Homo sapiens: one gene and its partners. The protein of the gene in region 3 interacts with the protein of the main gene of each other region in a pairwise test. Each region holds a gene or a part of one and is shown on either strand. Other genes may lie near its edges. The genes, in order: QTGAL, HSH2D, MPP3, MDH1 and SCN2A.

Region 1 (3,949 bases), about 39 Mb from region 3:
TGGAAAGTTGGAATGACTCCTGGACCCACGGTCTGCAGAACGGATGCTGTGTCAGCACAAAAACACGAACCCCTCGTACATCAGCCTCAGAGCTCCTGGGTGACCAGGTGCACCGTCAATGAGCAGTCGTATTTTGAAAGGAATCTCCTTTTCTGAGCACTGGGCCTAACGGTGGGCTTACACTATTCCATCAACCGTGCTGTGCACAGATGTGCTGCCACCTGGGCCTTGCCGTTCCATTTCTAGAGCCACAGGCAGAGCAGATTTAGCCTCATTCCTAAGAATCCTAGGATTCTCAGAATGGCGACCACTGCCTTCAACTTAACCCATTTATGGCTGAGGTTGCAATTTTTCGAATTTTTGCAATCAGATCTTGGCAGTGACCTTAAGCAGAATATAAACTTGCACATGCTTAGCGTTCCAATAATGGAACACTAGGCATAGATGGGTTTTAAAGTCACGGCAAAGAGTCAGACTGTCTTTTGAAGCTCTGAAGCCAGGCATTGACTTCTCCCTACCTATGAAAGGCCTGCATGGTGTCTTCTTCCAGTTCAAGGTTGCTTCCTCTACACTGAAGATCTGTGGTTGAGTGCGGCCACCTCCATTGTGACCGTAGCATGATCTTCTGGAGAGCCTGCTGCCTCACCTCACACTCATATTACGGAGACGGCTTCTTTCCTTAAGCCTTGTGGGCCAACCTCTGCTAGCTTCAAACTTATGTTCACAGCTTCCTCACATCATTCAGCCTTCACAGAATTGAAGAGAGTTGGGACCTCGCTCTGTATTAGGCTTTGGCTTAAGGGAATGTTGTGGCTGGTTTGATCTGTCAGACCACTAACACTTTCTCCCTATCCGCACTATCATTTGTGTGTTCACTGGAGGACCACTTTTAATTTCCTTCAATAACTTTTCCTTTGCATTCACAACTTGGCTAACCGTTAGGCTGAAAGCTGGGCCTCTCCTGCCAGTCGTGGCTTTCGACATGCCTTCCTCACTAAGCTTAAACATTTCTAGCTTTTGATTTAAAGCGAGAGACGTGCGACTCTTCCTTTCACTTGAACACTTAGAGTCCACTGTGGGGTTATTAGTTAACCTAATTTCAATGTTGTGCCTCAGGGAATAGGGAGGCCTGAGGAGGGGTGGGGTGGGGGGGAGCGGGGAGGCGACAGCTGCTGTCAGAACATTCGCATTTTATCAATCAAGTTCACTGATTCATATGGGCGCCCCGAGATAGTAGTGACACCACAGGTCACCGTAACACATACAGTAACAGTTTGACATATTGCGAGAATTAACACGTGGAGATGGGGAGACGTGGAGACGTGGAGTGGGCGTGCTGCTGGAAGAGGGGCACTGATGGGGTTGCTCTCGTGGGGCTGCCACACGCCTGTAATTTATAAAATGCACAATGAAGTGCAATAAAATGAGGTGCGCCAGTAGTTGCCAGAAAGCTGTGCCCAAGAGGCTCTGCTCACGTTGTTCTGCCTGGACTTGACTTGGATTAGTTGTGTGACAGCTCATCACAGGCCGGGCAGTGTAGACCAACACACGCTGGCCTCACGGCTTCTGCGGGGCAGGAACCGTGACCCGCCCTGGTGTGGCGTGCTTCTAGCTGTCACAGGTGCCCATGTCTGTGTGTCCCCCACAACCCCCCAACAGTACCGCTTGGGGCCTGGCTCACTCTATCAACCACTCACCCGTGGTTATTTACCAAGAAAATGCAAAGCAAAAAAAGCAGGGGTTGCAATCCTAGTCTCTGATAAAACAGACTTTAAACCAATGAAGATTAAAAAAGACAAAAAAGGGCATTACCTAATGGTAAAGGGATCAATGCAACAAGAAGAGCTAACTATCCTAAATATACACACACCTAATACAGGAGCACCCAGATTCATAAAACAAGTTCTTAGAGACCTACAGAGAGACTTAGGCAACCACACAATAATAATGGGAGACTTTAACACCCCACTGTCAATATTTGAGACAGAAAATTAACAAGGATATTCAGGACTTGAACGCAGCTCTGGACCAAGCGGACCTAATAGACATCTACAGAACTCTCCACCCTAAATCAACAGAATATACATTCTTCTCAGCACCACACAGCACTTACTCTAAAATTAACCACATAATTGGAAGTGAAACACTCCTCAGCAAATGCAAAAGAACAGAAATCCTAACAGTCTTTCAGAACACAGTGCAATCGAATTAGAACTCAGGATTAAGAAACCCAAAATCGCAGAACTACATGGAAACTGAACAACCTGCTCCTGAATGACTACTGGGTAAATAACAAAATTAAGGCAGAAATAACGAAGTTCTTTGAAACCAATGAGAACAGAGAGACAACGTACCAGAATCCCTGGGACACAGCTAAAGCAGTGTTAAGAGGGAAATTTATAGTGCTAAATGCCCACATCAGAAAGCAGGAAAGATCTAAAATCGACACCCTGACATCACAATTAAAAGAACTAGAGAAGCAAGAGCAAACAAATTCAAAAGCTAGCAAAAGACAAGCAAGATCAGAGCAGAACTGAAGGAGATAGAGACACAAAAATCCCTTCAAAAAAATCAATGACTGGTTTTTTGAAAAGATTAACAAAATAGACCACTAGCCAGGCAAAGAAAAGAAGAATCAAGTAGACACAATAAAAAAAGATAAAGGGGCTGTCACCACTGATCCCACAGAGATACAAGCTACCATCAGAGAATACTATAAACACCTCTATGCAAATAAACTAGAAAATCTAGACGAAATGGATAAATTCCTGGACACATACACCCTCCCAAGACTAAACCAGGAAGAAGTCGAATCCCTGAAAAGACCAATAACAAGTTCTGAAATTGAGGCAGTAATTAATACCCTACCAACCAAGAAAAGCTCAGGACCAGATGGATTCACAGCCGAATTCTACCAGAGGTACAAAGAGGAGCTGGTACCATTCATTCTGAAACTTCCAAACAATAGAAAAAAAGGGACTACTAACTCATGAGGCCAGCATCATCCTGATTCCAAAACCTGGCAGAGACACAACAAAAAAAATTTCAGGCCAATACCCCTGATGAACACTGATGTGAAAATCATCAATAAAATACTGGCAAACTGAATCCAGCAGCACATCAAAAAGCTTATCCACCATGATCAAGTCAGCTTCATCCCTGGGATGCAAGGCTGGTTCAATATACGCAAATCAATAAACATAATCCATCACATAAACAGAACCAAAGACGAAGACCACATGATTATCTCAACAGATGCAGAAAAGGCCTTCAATAAAATTCAACACCCTTAGTGCTAAAAACTCCCAATACACTAGGTATTGATGGAACGTATCTCAAAATAATAGCTATTTATGACAAACCCATAGCCAGTATCATACTGAATGGGCAAAAGCTAGAAGCATTCCCTTTGAAAACTGGCACAAGACAAGGATGGCCTCTCACCACTCCTATTCAACATAGTATTGGAAGTTCTGGCCAGGGCAATCAGGCAAGAGAAAGAAATAAAGAGTATTCAGATATGAAGAGAGGAAGTCAAATTGTCTCTGTTTGCAGATGACATGATTGTATATTTAGAAAACCCCATTGTCTCAGCCCAAAAACTCCTTAAGCTGATAAGCAACTTCAGCAAAGTCTCAGGATACAAAATCGATGTGCAAAAATCACGAGCATTCCTATACACCAATAATAGACAAGCAGAGACTGAAACCATGAGTGAACTCTCACAATTGCTACAAAGAAAATAAAATACCTAGGAATACAACTTATAGGGGATGTGAAGGACCTCTTCAAGAAAAACTATAAACCACTGCTCAGGGAAGTAGGACACAAACAAATGGAAAAAAAAAATTCCATGCCCGTGGATAGGAAGAATCAATATCATGAAAATGGCCATAAAATAATTTATAGATTCAATCCCATTCCCATCAAGCTGCCATTGACTTTATTC
Region 2 (3,949 bases), on a different chromosome or scaffold from region 3:
GCTGGGATTACAAGCATGAGCCACTGCACCCAGCCTAAAATTCCTTTTAGAGATGGAGTCTCACTATGTTGTCCAGGCCAGCCTTGAACTCCTGGGCTCAAGCGATCCTCCCGCCTCAGCATTCCAAGTAGCTGGGATTAAAGGTAAGTGCCAGTGCAGCCAGCTGCTTCTTTTAATATAACTACTAAAATTTTTTTAAATTGCAATGTGCAACTCATGTTATATTTCTGTTATTCAGCAAGGCCCCAGAGCTCAGAAACCATGACCAATACTACTTCCTCTCTGTGGCCTTCACAGAATTTTCTCAATTTCCTGCATGCAGAGAGTGGCCATAAATATTTTTTCCTCCATTTAGTTAGAGCCGGGCCCACATCCTCAGAGCTCACAGTCTGAGGTAGAAAGGGCACATTGGGGCCAGGCACGGTGGCTCATGCCTGTAATCCCAGCACTTTGGGAGGCCGAGGCCGGCAGATCACTTGAGGTCAGGAGTTTGAGACTAGCCTGGCCAACATGGTGAAACCTCGTCTCTACTAAAAATACAAATATTAGCCGGGTGCGGTGGTGCATGCCTGTAGTCCCAGCTACTCATGAGGCAGGAGGATTGCTTGAACCCAGGAGATAGAGGCTGCAGTGAGCCGAGATCGCGCCACTACACACCAGCCTGGGCAACAGGAGCGGAACTCTGTCTCAAAAAAAAAAAATAGAAAAAGAAAAAAAAAGAAAGGGCACATTGGTTGTATCCTGATGGGTTGAGAGCAGCTGCTTGGAGTACTGTGTTCAGAAAGATTCTGGCCGGGTGCGGTGGCTCACGCCTGTAATCCCAGCACTTCGGGAGGCCGAGGCGGGTGAATCACTTGAGGCCAGGAGTTTGAGACCAGCCTGGCCAACATGGTGAAACCCTATCTCTACTATAAACACAAAAATTAGTCAGGCTTGGTGGCATGTGCCTGTAATCCCAGCTACTTAGCAAGTTGAGGCGGAAGAATCACTTGAGTCCGGGAGGCAGAGGTTGCAGTGAGCCAAGATTGCACCACTGCACTCCAGCCTGGGTGACAGAGTGAGACCCTGTCTCAAAAAGAAAGAGAGAAAGATTCTGAGGCTGCATGCTGCCATCGTTGATTGGTAATGCTTGGCCTGGGCGAGGTGTGGGGTGCTGCCAGGTCCCTGGCAGTGCTGGTCTGTTGGCCACTTGTATAGAGAAAGCTGAGGCTCAGAGAGAGCAAGTAACTTGCCCCAGGTCACACAGTGAGCCCAAAGAGGTGGCAGGATTCAAGCCTGGGAGCCTGGAGCTCATTTTAGCCTCTTGCCACACTGAGCTGAGCCAAGTCCAGAATTCTGCAGTTAAAAGCTGCCCAGGGTAGGGACAGACAAGGACAGGGTGGGGAGGGCAGGGTGGAGGGTGTGGGTGTGTCCTCACTCTCTTGAGATTGCACCATGGAACCACTCGGGGACCCCGTCTTGGGCCAGCTGGCCCATCTGGGTGTGCACAAACCAGTCCAGCCGTGGGGGTAGCGGTAGGGGCAGCTTCCCGGCCTCTGTCATAGCTTCCTGGGGTGGAGGGAAGGTCACCTGGGTAGAGAAGGGAGGGAAGACAAGAATCAAGCTTGATGCACCTCTTATCTTTGCTCTATTCTTGAAGCTTGTGGTGCCTCCTCCTTTGAGAAGTCCTCCAGGGTGGACAGAGCAATGGACTTAAAACTGGCTTGTGGCTGGGTGTGACGGCTCACATGTGTAATCCCAGCACTTTGGGAGGCCAAGGTGGGAGGATTGCTTGAGCCCAGGAGTTCCAGACCAGCCTGGGCAACATAGTGAGACCCCCATCTCTACAAAAAATTAAAAAATTTGGCCAGGTGCGGTGGCTCACGCCTGTAATCTCAGCACTTTGGGAAGCCAAGGTGGGTAGATCACCTGAGGTCAGGAGTTTGAGACCAGCCCGGCCAACATCATGAAACCCTGTCTCTACTAAAAATACAAAAATTAGCTGGGTGTGGTGGTGGGCACTTGTAATCCCAGCTACTCCGGAGGCTGAGGCAGGAGAATCACTTGAACCCGGGGGGCAGAGGTTGCAGTGAGCCAAGATCATGCCACTGTGCTCCAGCCTGGGCGACAGAGTGAGACTCCTCAAAAAATAAATAAGCAAATAAATCAATAAAATAAAATTTAAAAATTAGCTGGGTGTGGTGGTGCATGCCTGTAGTCCCAGCTACTCAGGAGGCTGAGGTGGGAGGATCCCTTGAGCTCAGGAGGATATGGCTGCAGTGAGCTGTGGTTGTGCCACTGCACTCCAGCCTGGGGAACAGAGCAAGACCATGTTTCAAAAACAACAACAACAAAAAACTGGCTTGTGTGGCTGGGCGTGGTGGCTCACGCCTGTAATCCTAGCACTTTGGGAGGCCAAGGCAGGTGGATTACCTGAGATCAGGAGTTCAAGACCAGCCTGGGCCACGTGGTGAAACCCTGTCACTACAAAAATACAAAAATGAGCTGGGCACAGCGGCCTGTGCCTATAATCACAGCTACTTGGGAGGCTGAGGCACGAGAATCACTTGACCCCAGGAGGCGGAGGCTGCAGTGAGCCGAGATTGCACCACTGCACTCCAGCCTGGGCAACAGAGTGAGACTCCGTCTCAAAACAAAACAAAACAAAACAAAACAAAAAAAAAACCACTGGCTTGTGATTTTTTGGGCACCTACTATGTGCCTGATAGTTTTTACACATTCATTCATTGGCTCATCCCCAAAGGCCTTCAAGGACTTTTCCTTTTATTCTTCTTATGCCATTGTGTTTTTTTTCTTTTTTTTTTTTTTTGAGACAGGGTCTCACTCTGTCACCCAGGCTGGAGTGCAGTGGCCCCATCTTGGCTCACTGCAGCCTCGACCTTCTTCCCTCAAGTGATTCTCCCACCTCAGTCCCCCAAGTAGCTGGGACCACAGGCATGTGCCACCACGCCTGGCTAATTTTTGTATTTTTGTAGAGATGGGGTTTCACCTTGCTGCCCACATTGGTCTCAAACTCCTGGACTCAAGAAATCCACCTGTGTCAGCCTCCCAAAGTGCTAGCATTACAGGTGTGAGCCATTGTGCCCAGCCTTTTATGCCATTATTGCAAGGACTAGAAAGTTCATTTTATAAATAAATGTTTTGAAATTTAAGAATAGAGTATTTAGAGCTGGGCATGGTGGTTCACGCCTGTAATCCCAGCACTTTGGGAGGCTGAGGCAGGTGGATCACCTGAGGTCAGGAGTTCGAGGCCAGCCTGGCCAACATGGTGAAACCCCATCTCTACTAAAAATACAAAAATTAGCCAGATGAGGTGGTGGGTGCCTGTAATCCCAGCTACTCAGGAGGCTGAGGCAGGAGAATTGCTAGAACTCAGGAGGCAGAGGTTGCAGTGAGCCAAGATCGCGCCATTGCACTCCAGCCTGGGGGGCAGAGTGAGACTCCATCTCAAAAAAAAAAAAAAGAGTAGAGTATTTAAATATTAAGTAAATATCAAGGCCCCTGGAGGAATAAGGAAATGACAAAATGGCAAGTGAACGAAATAAACAGCTGACCCAACGGTGGTGGTCAAAAAGGGTTGCCCTGATTTCTTTCTTTCTTTTTTTTTGAGACAGGGTTTCCCTCTGTTCCTGAGGCTGGAGTGTGCAATGGTGCAATCACAGCTCATGCTCACTGCAGCCTCAACCTCCTAGGCTCAAGCAATCCTCCCACTTCAACCTCCTGAGTAGTTGGGACTACAGGCATGCAGTACCATGCCTGGCTAATTTTGAAAATTTTTTTGTAGAAACAGGGTCTTGCTCTGTTGTCCAGTCTGGCTTTGAACTCCTGGGCTCAAGCAATCCTAACACCTCAGCCTCCCAACATACTGGGATCACAGGCATGAGCCACAGTGCCTGGCTGCCTTGGTTTCATTAAACACCAGAGAAATGTGGCTTCAGACAGTCACTTC
Region 3 (3,949 bases):
GCACTGGCCCGGCTGCATCAGCATCACCTGGAGGCAGGTTAAAAGTGCAGAATCTTCGGCCTAGCTCAGACCTGCTGAATCAGTCTGCATTTTAACAAGATGCTCAGGGAATTCGTGGACTCGTTAATGTTTGCAAAGTGCTGGTCTAGGATTCTCTGCAACGATGACCCCCCAGACTTTGGGGGTAACATCGCCCTATACCAGGAGGTTTGTCTCCCAGCTTAGTAGCTCTTCCACACACCGGTGATTCTCAACCTTTCTACCCAAACGAATCTGGGGCACAAACACTCTCTTTGTAATAGTAGCTTGACAAGACCTGGGATGGTGGGGAAGGGTGTCAACCCTGTCCCACAGTTAGTAATCCCGCAAGCCCATGCTATATTCTTAACTGTCACAGTCCTTGGACTAAACCAACGCATGAGCTTTTTCTCAATCACCCCAAAGTACTCCATGACTATTTATATATATATATATTTTTTTTTTTTTTCTTTTTTTTTTGAGACGGTCTCACTGCGTCGCCCACTCTAGAGTGTAGTGGTGTAATCACGGCTCACTGCAACCTCAAACTCCTGGGCTCAAACAATCTTCCTGCCTGGGCCTCCCGAACAGCTAGGACTACAGGTGTGGGCCACCCGTGCATGGCCTATATTTTCTTTTTCTTTTTTTCTTTTTTTTGAGACGGAATTTCACTCTTGTTGCCCAGGCGGGAGCGCAATGGCGCGATCTCGGCTCACTGCAACCTCCACCTCCCAGATTCAAGCGATTCTCTTGCCTCAGCCTTCCCAAGTAGCTGTGATTATAGGCATGTGCCACCAAGCCTGGCTAATTTTGTATTTTTAGTAGAGATGGGGTTTCTCTGTGTGGGTCAGGCTGGTCTCGAACTCCCGACCTCAGGTGATCCGCCCACCTCGGCCTCCCAAAATGCTGGGATTACAGGCGTGAGCCACTGTGCCTGGCTTTTTTTTTTTTTTCTTTTTTTTTTTTTTTTGAGACAGAGTCTCACTCTGTTGCCCAGACTGGAGTGCAGCAGCATGATCTTGGCTCACTGCAACCTCCGCCTCCCAGGTTTGTGTGTTTAGTAGAAATGGGGTTTCGCCATGTTGGCTAGGCTGGTCTGGAACTCCTGGCTTCAAGTGATCCGCCTGCCTCGGCCTCTTAAAGTGCTGGGATTACAGGTGTGCACCACCATGCCCAGCTGGCCTATATTTTCTATTAAAATTTCTACTGACTTGGGAAGGAGATGAGAATTCCAGCCACAACCCCAGAAAGCAAAGCAAATCCCAAACAGGTGACCTGATAGGAGGGAGGTAAGGGGACCTATTAGCAAAGGTGGAGGGCTCTGGAACAATGGCCATGATCGGGGCTGGGCCAGCTTTGCACTGCCGCCACTCACCGCTCCTGTCTGCTGCGCCTCCTCGCATGATCCTGGCCACCACAACAGCCCCTGAGTGCTCGTCCCGCCGGATGGTGGCACCCTGAACCCGAGACAGAAGAGACAGGTTCTTAAGCAGCAGCTCCAAACCTCAGACCCCTACTCTCTGGACCCAACACAGCCTCCCCAGTCCCTCCCTCTGACAGTCCAGAGAGATCAGTGGGGACCTTCCCAATGCTGAAGACAAAACAAAACCAACATCCCCCATTAATATAGCCCTGCACTGTACAGTTTACAAGGCACAATAATGCTGCAACATTTTAGATGAGGGACTGGGGCTCAGAGAAGTTAAATATCCTCAAGGTCACCCAGCTGGTAAAGGGGAAAGCTTTTTGTGATGCCAAATCCAGTAAGTTCTCCATCACATCTCTCTCATATCACAGTTCCTACCACTTGCAAAGACATTTAATAATGAGGATGACACGTGCCAGCTAATTCTCACCCTGCCTCTACCCAATCACAGGGTTACCGGGCCTTCTGCTGCTGCTGAGGGAAACCAATTATGCACCCCAGCCAGGGCTTCGGGACCAGGACTTGGCCCATGAAGCACAGCAGAGATGACACTTAGGATGAGAAAGGCACTAACGAGCCCTCGATTTCCTGCACCACACAGGCCGGACTGCAGCAGGACGGCAGAAAGCTTAAGAGCTAAGCTCTAGGGCTGGACAGCCTTGGGTGTGAACACAGTTCTGCCGTTTACAAAAAGCATGTGGACTTAACAAGGAAATCTCTTATCCTCTCCAAGCCTGTTTCCTGTGAGATGTGGGACAGCATTTAACTCACAGTGTTGTTGCAAGGATTCCACTCAAGGCACTTAGTACACAGTAAGCACTCAACATATGTTAACCACTTATTAGTGGCTGTAACTGCAAACACATTTGCACACTTATTGTTAACATCATCTGTGCCATCTATTTGAAGTACGTAAGATAATTATTGCTAGAAAGAGAGGCCATCAGCTAAGAACCTCAGGACTTCTAGCCCCCCAGAACTGAGAACTTTCCAGCATCGCTATCCATCATTTATTCAGCTCTGAACCGCCAGCACCCAATACAGAGCCTGGATAGGAGGGCTCACAATGTGTTTGCTAAATCAATGGATGGCCACTCCATTTTACAAGTGAGGAAACAGAGGCAGAGGAGAGATCCTCGTCTGTTTGCAGAAGAGGCTCGTCGGAGGTCATTTGGGGAAAGTTGGAAATAGAGAATGCCAGCTGTGGGATCCTCTGGAGCCAATCTCAATTCTCTGGGCTTCCACCACTTCTGAGCATCTCATAAACAACGCTGTCCCTTTGCTCGGTAAATCAATGCTGAACCAGGACCAAAGTGATAGCAGTCTGTCTGCTGGGGAGAGGAATGCCCTGTGCTTCCTCAACATTCAGAGCAGGCATTGTCACACGTTTTCTATAAGGGGCCACATGTAAATATTTGAGGCCAGCCACACAGTCTCTGTCACAACGACTCAACTCTGCCATCGCACTATAAAGGCAGCCACAGCCAATCTGTAAGTGAATGGGCCTGGTTGTGCTCCAAAAAAGCTTTATTTTAAAAAATAAGCTGTGGGCTGGTTTTGGCCCTTGGGCTGTAGTTTGTCCATTTCTGGCTTAAAGCATGATCAGGGTCACCCTGTACAATTGTGCAGGTTATTAACTACACAAAGGGTGTTGGCCACAGTTGAGAGGGGCTGTATCCACCTAGAGAAAGGGGTGCCCTGCACACAGAGGCACCACAGGGATGAGCAGCAGCGCAGGCAAAGCTGCCGTCACTCACTCTGAAGACTTCGGGGAGGATCTTGTCCAGTGTTCTGGGTGGGGGTGAGAGGCAGGGGAAGAGTGGGTTAGAGAGGGGCAGGCAGCAGCACCTACCAGGGGTTCCTTGTTCTTCACCAAGCGGACGATCTTCACCGATTCCTCATCAAAATCCTCATCGATATTGTCAGGCAGAGGCGGGAGAACGGGGTCAAAATTCTTCTGGGCAACCGTGTCATGTACCATGAGCACAGCCTGCCGGGAAAGCCAGAGAAAAGGAAGGCTGGCCCGCCGCTCACAGGGTCAGCAGGCCGCAGCTGGCCGGTGGTATGGAGGGTGGCAGACGCCATGCCAGAGAGACAACTGCCCAGACACTAGTGCTGAGGATCGCTCCCTCAGTCTCCACTCCTCAGCCTCATTAGGAGAGCTCCCTCCGCCCCCATCCCAGGAGACCCAGAGGCATGGCTGGGCAGGGGCTCTGTGTGACTACCCTCAGGTGCGGGGTGGACAGCAGCTGGAGCAGCTCCCTCTCATCACTGTGCACGGAGGCGGCCTGCAACTCCTCCATCACCTGCAGAGAATGAGACAGGCGCCACTGATGGCTAGAGGTGCCCCTGCCCCATATCTGCTGGGTCCTTCCTCTTTGGAAGGGCCCACCCAGCTGCAGCCCCCAGGGGCACACCAGACCCTCAACCACCCGACGACGATGATCCTGGGAACATCACACCAGGGGTCAGGAGCAGCTCTATGGGGCCATCCTCCAAGGAGCC
Region 4 (3,949 bases), on a different chromosome or scaffold from region 3:
CGTTGTCTATAATGTGTGTGTGTGTAGACAATTTCAGGTGTATAACCCTTGTGCAATATTACACTTAACTGGTATAATAAATTATATACACACACACATTGGGGAAAAAAGGATAGTCCTTTACCTGACATTGATTGTTGCTCATTTCTTACCCTTATTTATCCTTGGTATACATAAGTAGTTAATAAACAGTGGTAGTTCAAAATAAAAAAATCCTCTTATGAAATAATTTCTAATTGAGAGCCTTTAACAAAAACCTAAAACCTGTATTTTGTAAGAAATCAAATACCATAAAATCCCTTCTCTACTCCCCAACCCACCTTTCAGGAGGGGAAGGGCACAGTCTTGCAGTTCCATTAGGACACCGTCCAGGACACCCATCATGGGGGTGATATCCAACAGCACAAGAATTATAGGCTACCAAATAGCAAGGACAGCATCTGTTAGTGTAGGCTATTTCATTTAGACACAAGAAAGTCTTTTCACATAGTTTTTATTTGGTATGTACATGCATGTAATTCCCATTAATTAGTCATGATGATTATTTTAGGAGGTCAGGTATCTAGCACTATGCCACTTTCAGAAAGAAGGATGCTATAAAACCAGCATTGGTTTGCTAACAGACACAGTGAGAGGAATCACCACTACTCAATTTTAACAGTATATGAAAAAAACATTAAACTGAGTGACATGCTATAGCTTGCTCTTATTGTTAATAGCTGTATATTTGATTTCAGTTCATGGAAAGCTAAGTACAGTATCTGACATGAAAGAATAATTCAGTATCCATGGGTCAAGAAACTGAATAAATGAATACCTTAGAAAAGGATTTTAGTGTATATTAATCAGGCTTGCTGGAAGTCGGAGTGCCTGCTTCAGCGGGGAAGCAGATTTCCTTACTCTTTTGGTTCCAAAGGCCATTTATGAACAAGGGAGTGCTTACTGAGTAACTCTCTCCCACATGACTGTAAGTTACTGTCATTAGTGATATCTCCCATTGACTGACACCTGCTGGTTGCACCAAGTCAACTGAGTACAATATATGGAAGAGTTCTCATTTGCAAAGTGTTTTCAGTGCCTGGAGGCGTACATATAAATACCTTAGTAGCTTCCATTTATAGCAATGTGCCTATTACATTTACTGGGATTACATATTCCTTCACTGTTTAACAATTTGTGTACAACTAAATACAGATTTTTATTAACCATATTCTTACTCTAATAACTTAAGATTTATAGACACCTGTTCCTACCTGATCTTTACCAAAGACAGATCCATTTCCAATACTGTACAGCAGTGAATATGCAATTTGACCAGCTGCTCCAGTCACAAGGACTCTGATTGGTTCAGACTGTAATGAAAAAGACCCATTAACATCTTTAAGTACTACTGTACCTTAAAAATATCCAGGATTTTAATCTATAGTAAGAAATCCACATACTTTAAAAGTGAATGTAAAATTTTAAAGTCCTTTTGCATCTGGCTCAGTAGAAAATGAATGTGCTGCATATTTACGTGGTGTTATTTAACTCTCACCATGTAGGGAGCTAAAAGTGTTATCCTGGATTTACTTACATAATCTTATCCACCTTTTTTGGGATATTTTACCACTAAAATAGGCTCAACAATGTTGATGTGTTCAGTATGTGGTGATCCAAACCCTGGCAGCCACTAGAGCCACACAAATCCTTATTATGCAAAGCCCCCACTCCCATCTGCTCAATAGAATCTTCATACCAAGAAGAAGAGTGAAAGAGGCTAAAACTTTCCATTTACATTGAGCCAAAACATTTAAATAAGACAATTAATCGTGCTTCAACTTTGTCTGGAGGAGGAAAAACAAGATTTTTTATTTCGGGAGAAACAACAGCAACATGTAGTGACAGACAGCTGACAACCTGATTCCAAGGGAAAATTATTTTTAAAAGCAAGGAGGGAAGACATACAAACAGAGATTTCAACAGTTCCTGAACAAAATACAGACATAGAAACAAAGATAACTGATATTCAAAGTGATGACTCTGAGTAAAAAAAGACTAAGCTGACAGAATTTTAAAAGATAGAAATATATCTATTAAAAAGAACAAAACAATAATGTTTAGAAACGTAATGGGTAGGTTTAGTTAGACAGAAAAATTCAGTTAAGGTGAACCATTCCTTTCCCCGATAATGCTGGGTAAATGTACTTCCACTGTCACCTTTACCCCTACCTGCATGGAGAAATGGTCCACTGATGTGACTAAGCCCAGAAGTGTTTGGTTTCTTTTTACTTAAAGTTCCTTCTTCCAGATGAGAGTCACGTCTCTGAGACGAAACAAGGATGGATAGCCTCGAAGGCTTCTTTCAAGCTTCTGACACTAAGCTCTGAAAGTTAGCAGCACTCAGCAATTTGGTACTCACTCATAGAAGTCAAAGAAAAAAAAAAATTTCAAAAAAGAAGTGTCAGGCCAGGGATGGTGGCTCATGCCTGTAATCTCAGCACTTTGGGAGGCTGAGGCAGGCGGATCACCTGAGGTTGGGAGTTTGAGACCAGCCTGACCAATATGGAGAAACCCCGTCTCTACTAAAAATACAGAATTAGCTGGGTGTGGTGGCAGGCATCTCCCAGCTATTTGGAAGGCTGAGGCAGGTGAATCACTTGAACCCGGGAGGCAGAGGTTGAGTGAGTGGAGATCGTGCCATTGTATTCCAGCCTGGGCAACAAGAGCGAAACTCCTTCTCAAAAAAAAAACAAAAAACAACAAACAAAAAAAACAAAAAGTGTCAACTGGTGTAGAGAAATGAATTTGATCATAGCCAACTACATACTACACAATTTTTTTTTTCTAATTTATTACTATTTATAGAAAAATCTTTAATGGCCTACACGTTTTTCATTCTGTCATTTTCCCTTCTTTCCTTGAAGTAGAGTAGGTGAGGAAAAGGGAATACAGGAAGAAATTATTACTCCCTTTCCCTTTAGAATACGAGATCCTTAAGGACAGGAACTTTGTCTATTTTATTTACTGCTGTATCTCAATTGCCTAGAACAACACCTGTCCTGTAGTTGGAACTCTGGTATTTGCTTGAAGGAATAGCTGGGTCCTGTAAAACTATCAAAAAGATGGAAATGTATAAGAACTGTTTGAAAACATATGTAACGTGCTTTAAAAAATTTTTTAAGATATTTTATTTATTTAAGCTATTTCAGGCTGAGTGCAGTGGCTCACACCTACAATCCCAGCGCATTGCGCGGGGGGACAAGGCGGGTGGATCACTTGAGCCCAGGAGTTCGAGACCAGCCTGGGCTACATAGTGAAACCCTGTCTCTTAAAAAAACAATTTAGCTGGGTGTGGTGGCAGATGCTGTAGTTCCAGCCACTCAGGAGGCTGAGGTAGGAGAATCACTTGAGCCTTGGAAGTTAAGGCTACAGTGAGCCATTACTGTGTGAGTGCACTTCAGCCTTGGTGACAGAGTGAGATCCTGTCTCAAACAAAAACTTTTTCATATATACTATGAAAACAAAAGGTATTTTATTCATATATATTATGTATTGAGAAAACTGGAAACTTAGTGACCACAATAGTTCCAACTATAGCTAACAAAATTGTCATTAGTACTAATGATATTACCTTATAAATCCACTGATGAACTGTTTTCTCATTTAATTCATTCATTAAACAAAACATCATTAAGTTCCTATCATGTACTTGGTACTATTTTAGGCCAGGGAATCCATTGGTGAATCACGTGAAGGAAACAAAAAGGATACACCAATTTTCTAAAACAGGGGGCTAGAGAAGCAGTAGAGAGTAGTAATTAAAGAGATGGACTCTGGAGCCAGACTTTCTGTGTTCAAGTCCTGGCTCCACAACTCATTAACTGCATGCTCTAGGACAAGTTACTTAACCTTTCTGTATTATTTCCCCATAGTAAAATGGAGATAATAATAGCAATTACCTAACAAA
Region 5 (3,949 bases), on a different chromosome or scaffold from region 3:
TCTCCACAACGACAGGTATAAATCAAGATGGTTCCAGGTAAACTGGGATGCACAGTCACTCCACTTCTAAGGGTCAAGAAACTTCTACATTTAATCAGTCTATTCAATTAAATTGTTCATGATTTTGTTGCCTAAGTGTTAGAAAGTTAAAATGTGAAATGACCTATCAATTAGACAAAGGGCATTCAGCTAAGCTGCTCCAATTACTGGCCTTGATAAATCCATCAACCGAAATCTCTAATGATTCTTGTTGAATCCTTAGTTATATCACCAGGAATGATGTCACTCCAATAATGTTAAGCCTGACTTCCCAGGGAATTCAACTGTGTGCAAAAAAAAACTGTTAGTAAATTATGCTGTTATTACAAACCTAGACTCACAGCATCATAAATCTATTCAAATATAAAAGCAAAAGCAGGATAAAATATGGATTCAAATTATTTCCACATTTGGGTATGCATCTTTTAAGGAGTTTTCATGAATGTGTAATCCTTAGAAGATAGGAATTTAGCTCCAAGAACACTGGAATTTTCTCCACTGGCACTTTATACCCAAATCTTGGTAATGTCAATATGCATATGTATGGCCTCTTAACAGACTATCCTGTAAAGTAGTTAAATTATTTTCCTCCAATGATCATGTTTTTTTTACCCTTCTTCAGACATCCACTCCCATGGTTTTATCTTGAAACTCTTCATGGCCAGTAACTGTGGCCTGCCCATAATCCTTCCTTCATACATCCTACACCACCTTTCTAGCGCATTTCATCTACAACTCCAATTCATTCCTTTAATCCCACCAGGCCTCTAAATCACTGATCTCGTCATACTTTGATTATCTCTCACTAAATGTCCTCTTTCCTTTCATTAGATAAATTCCACAGTTATTCATAAAAGTCACTCCTTGTATATACATACATACCTCACAAACTCCTCCGCTCAGTGTTTTTTTGTTTGGTTGGTTTTTTGGTAACTGTCTGGCTAAATCTTCATCCTCATATTCAGTTCCCACCTTACTTCCTGCCTGCACTTTTGCAGCTGGACGCATGCAAAAGTGGGTCCTTCATGATGCCCAGCAATCATGCCACATGTCCCTAGATTGATGCCCAGCAACCATGCCACATGTCCCTGGATCACTTACTCTCCCAGGTTCTTGTACTTAGATTTCATACCCTTTCTTTTCTCCTCAAACCACCAATACCTCCTACCTTGACCTCACTCTCAGTTGACAACTTTGTTTCCTAAATCAGTGAGAAAATTGAAACAATCAGGAGAGATTTTTCCCCACAGGTTTCTATCACTGCATGTGCCTTCCTACCAGGTTCTGCACCCACATAACCTGACCTCCCACCCATTACCTTAAATCAACTATCCCTGTTTCTATCTAAAATCATTCCTGCATCTGTGCACTAGATCCTATTCTTTCTTACTTACACAAGGGCATCTCTAGAGCATTTTATTTCTCTGTCTCTCCTGCATTAGTAATTTTAGCTCTTTATTATATTTGCATACAAGCATTTTATTATTGCTCTTGTATTTGAATTTTTTTACTTCCTTCAACTATCTTTTTTTTATTTTTTGTTGTCTTTGCAATAATACTTAATGAAAGTGTTTGCTGTATTCTCTGTATCTATGACTCTCTTTCTATTCTCTTTTAAATTTACGTTAGTCAAGTTTTTACTCTTACCATTTCACCAAATCAGCTCCTGATAGAAATCTGATGACCACCCTATTGCCAAATTCATCAGTCCATCCTCAGCTTTCATCTTACTTGACCATCCAGCAATATTGGAGACAGTTCATTGCTGTCTCCCCCTTGATACACTGCCTTCCGTTGGATTTCAGGATAGCACACAATTTTGACTCTTCTCTTAGCTTATTGTTCACTCCTTCACAGTCACTTTACTCTTTACTCTGCCTTCCCAGACTTCATTATTTGGGTGTCCCTGATTCTGTCCCTGATTTTCTTTTCTTCTTTATCTACTTTCTTTTGATCCCATTGAGTTTTATGGCGTTAAATGCCATATAAATCATGATGACATCCAAATATTTACCTCCAGTTTTCTGCCAAACTGAACTTGTGTGTCTAACTGCTTATTTGGCTTGGATATCTAGAAGACACTGAAAAGTTAACATCCCTAAACTAAATTTCGGATAGTTCTTCCCAACCAACCTGCTCCAATCCTCGCTTTCCCCACCTTACTTTTTTCAGGAGATAACTCTAGTTTTCCTCATCCTCAGGCTAACAACTCTAGTATCATCCTTGATTATTCTTTTTCTCTTATATCTGACATTCAGTCCATGAGAAATTCCTGTTGATTTCAACTTCAGAATATACCCAGGATCTATGTGCTGCCACCTTCACACTGCTACCCTGCTCAAGCCACCATCAAGTTTCTCATGGATTTCTGCCTTAATTTCCTAATTGGACTTTATTCTTCTACTTCTCCTTACAATCTATTCTCAATACGGCAAGACAGAAGTAAGATTACGCCACATCCCTGCTCAAAATTCTGCAAGTGATATCCAGTTTTCTCAGGGTAAAAGGCACCTGACAATTTCCAAAAAGTCTCTATTTAGCCTGGTCTCCATCCCATTACAGTATTTCTCTGAATTTGTCTCCAGTTTTTCTTTCCCTCATTCACTTTCACTATTTCTTGAATATTGCAGGAACACTTCAATCCTTTGGGCTGTTTCCTCTGCCTAGAAACCTTTTGCCTCAGGCACTTGCATGACTAACCTCCTCACCTGTTTAAAATCTGAGCTCAAATGTCGTTTCTAAATAATACCTACTCTTAACTATCCCATTTAAAAATCTCAGCCCCCTTCCTCTAACTTCATTCTTATCGTCTCCCACATTCTTCTATACTTTCTTTTCTTTGTTATCATTTGCTTTGCTTTGTTCTTTTTTTCCTTTTCTTTCCTTTCTTTTATTTCCTTCCCTTCTAACACATCACATTATAGCATACTGTATACATTGCATTTCTCTTGTTGGTAATTTAAGCCCCAAATGGGCAGAGATTATCATCTGTTTGGTGCACTGATGTTTCACAAATGCTTAGAACACTTCCTGATCTATAGAAGAGACTAAAAATGTTTGTAGAATAAAATAATGAATCTTAGAAACTTAAATTTATTCCTTTAAGCATACTAAGGGGCACCATGCTTTCTCTTTCACTTTATTGGGCTGATTCACATTTACAAATGACCCAGTGCAATCTGCCTGATTTTTCATTCAGTATTTACACCAATAGAAATAAAATGCATATTAGTGTTATAAAATCAAACCTTAAATGACAGTAAATGTATCATTAATAGTTACTGAAGACCTTTTCCTGATATATATGACATTTAATGTTTTTCTCTTGTGACTTCATTGTTCTTTGTTTGCTTGTTCATCTTCTAGATTGTGAGCTCCTCAAAGTCAGGAACTTGGTCATCATATCTGTCTCCCAAATACCACACTCAATGTCTGGCACATAAGAAGTTTTACAAATATGCTGTTTTAGTCATAGGATGAGCATACACTTAAAATTTAATACTGGTCCTGCATATGCTGTGTCCTGAGCTTTCGCTATGTAGGTTGCTTTAATTCTTACAACCGTGTGGAGCAAAGCACTGGTCTCATTTTACAGATGTGATAAAGCTAGTTATTTTGTCCAGGACTTAATCATTGCAGTATTCTCACTGTCTAATCTCTAGTGACCATATCACAGGAAGTTAATTATGCTCTTTTTTTAAAGATAAATTGAAATAATGCTAACAATGCCAGATTTCTTGGAAATGTTTTGTTTTTAGTTTCAGTTAGAAGCACGCCTTAGCTTAGTGAATAAGGGACAATGAATGTTATTTATTTTCCTGCTCAATTCAGTTGGGAAAATTGACCTCATCGTTTTGTGTTTTCAATCCCTTAAGTGTAATAAAATTATTTACTACCTTAGTTTATATAA

What was found.
Region 1: the proteins of MPP3 (region 3) and QTGAL interact in a two-hybrid assay, tested with the Homo sapiens proteins (one large-scale study listed by IntAct).
Region 2: the proteins of MPP3 (region 3) and HSH2D interact in a two-hybrid assay, tested with the Homo sapiens proteins (one large-scale study listed by BioGRID and IntAct).
Region 4: the proteins of MPP3 (region 3) and MDH1 interact in a two-hybrid assay, tested with the Homo sapiens proteins (one large-scale study listed by BioGRID and IntAct).
Region 5: the proteins of MPP3 (region 3) and SCN2A interact in a two-hybrid assay, tested with the Homo sapiens proteins (one large-scale study listed by IntAct).

What each region holds. Positions count from the first base shown.
Region 1 is NC_000017.11:82,950,663-82,954,611, forward strand, and holds part of QTGAL (queuosine-tRNA galactosyltransferase), read right to left. Parts: intron 1-3,949.
Region 2 is NC_000019.10:16,146,344-16,150,292, reverse strand, and holds part of HSH2D (hematopoietic SH2 domain-containing protein), read right to left. Parts: intron 1,570-3,949; 5' UTR 1,543-1,569; coding exon 1,418-1,542; intron 1-1,417. UniProt on the Homo sapiens protein: May be a modulator of the apoptotic response through its ability to affect mitochondrial stability. Adapter protein involved in tyrosine kinase and CD28 signaling. Seems to affect CD28-mediated activation of the RE/AP element of the interleukin-2 promoter.
Region 3 is NC_000017.11:43,826,358-43,830,306, forward strand, and holds part of MPP3 (MAGUK p55 subfamily member 3), read right to left. Parts: intron 3,775-3,949; coding exon of another isoform or gene 3,751-3,774; coding exon 3,670-3,750; intron 3,435-3,669; coding exon 3,297-3,434; intron 1,476-3,296; coding exon 1,394-1,475; intron 1-1,393. UniProt on the Homo sapiens protein: Participates in cell spreading through the phosphoinositide-3-kinase (PI3K) pathway by connecting CADM1 to DLG1 and the regulatory subunit of phosphoinositide-3-kinase (PI3K). Stabilizes HTR2C at the plasma membrane and prevents its desensitization.
Region 4 is NC_000002.12:63,591,891-63,595,839, reverse strand, and holds part of MDH1 (malate dehydrogenase, cytoplasmic), read right to left. Parts: intron 1,353-3,949; coding exon 1,254-1,352; intron 418-1,253; coding exon 321-417; intron 1-320. UniProt on the Homo sapiens protein: Catalyzes the reduction of aromatic alpha-keto acids in the presence of NADH. Plays essential roles in the malate-aspartate shuttle and the tricarboxylic acid cycle, important in mitochondrial NADH supply for oxidative phosphorylation.
Region 5 is NC_000002.12:165,245,719-165,249,667, forward strand, and holds part of SCN2A (sodium channel protein type 2 subunit alpha), read left to right. Parts: intron 1-3,949. UniProt on the Homo sapiens protein: Mediates the voltage-dependent sodium ion permeability of excitable membranes.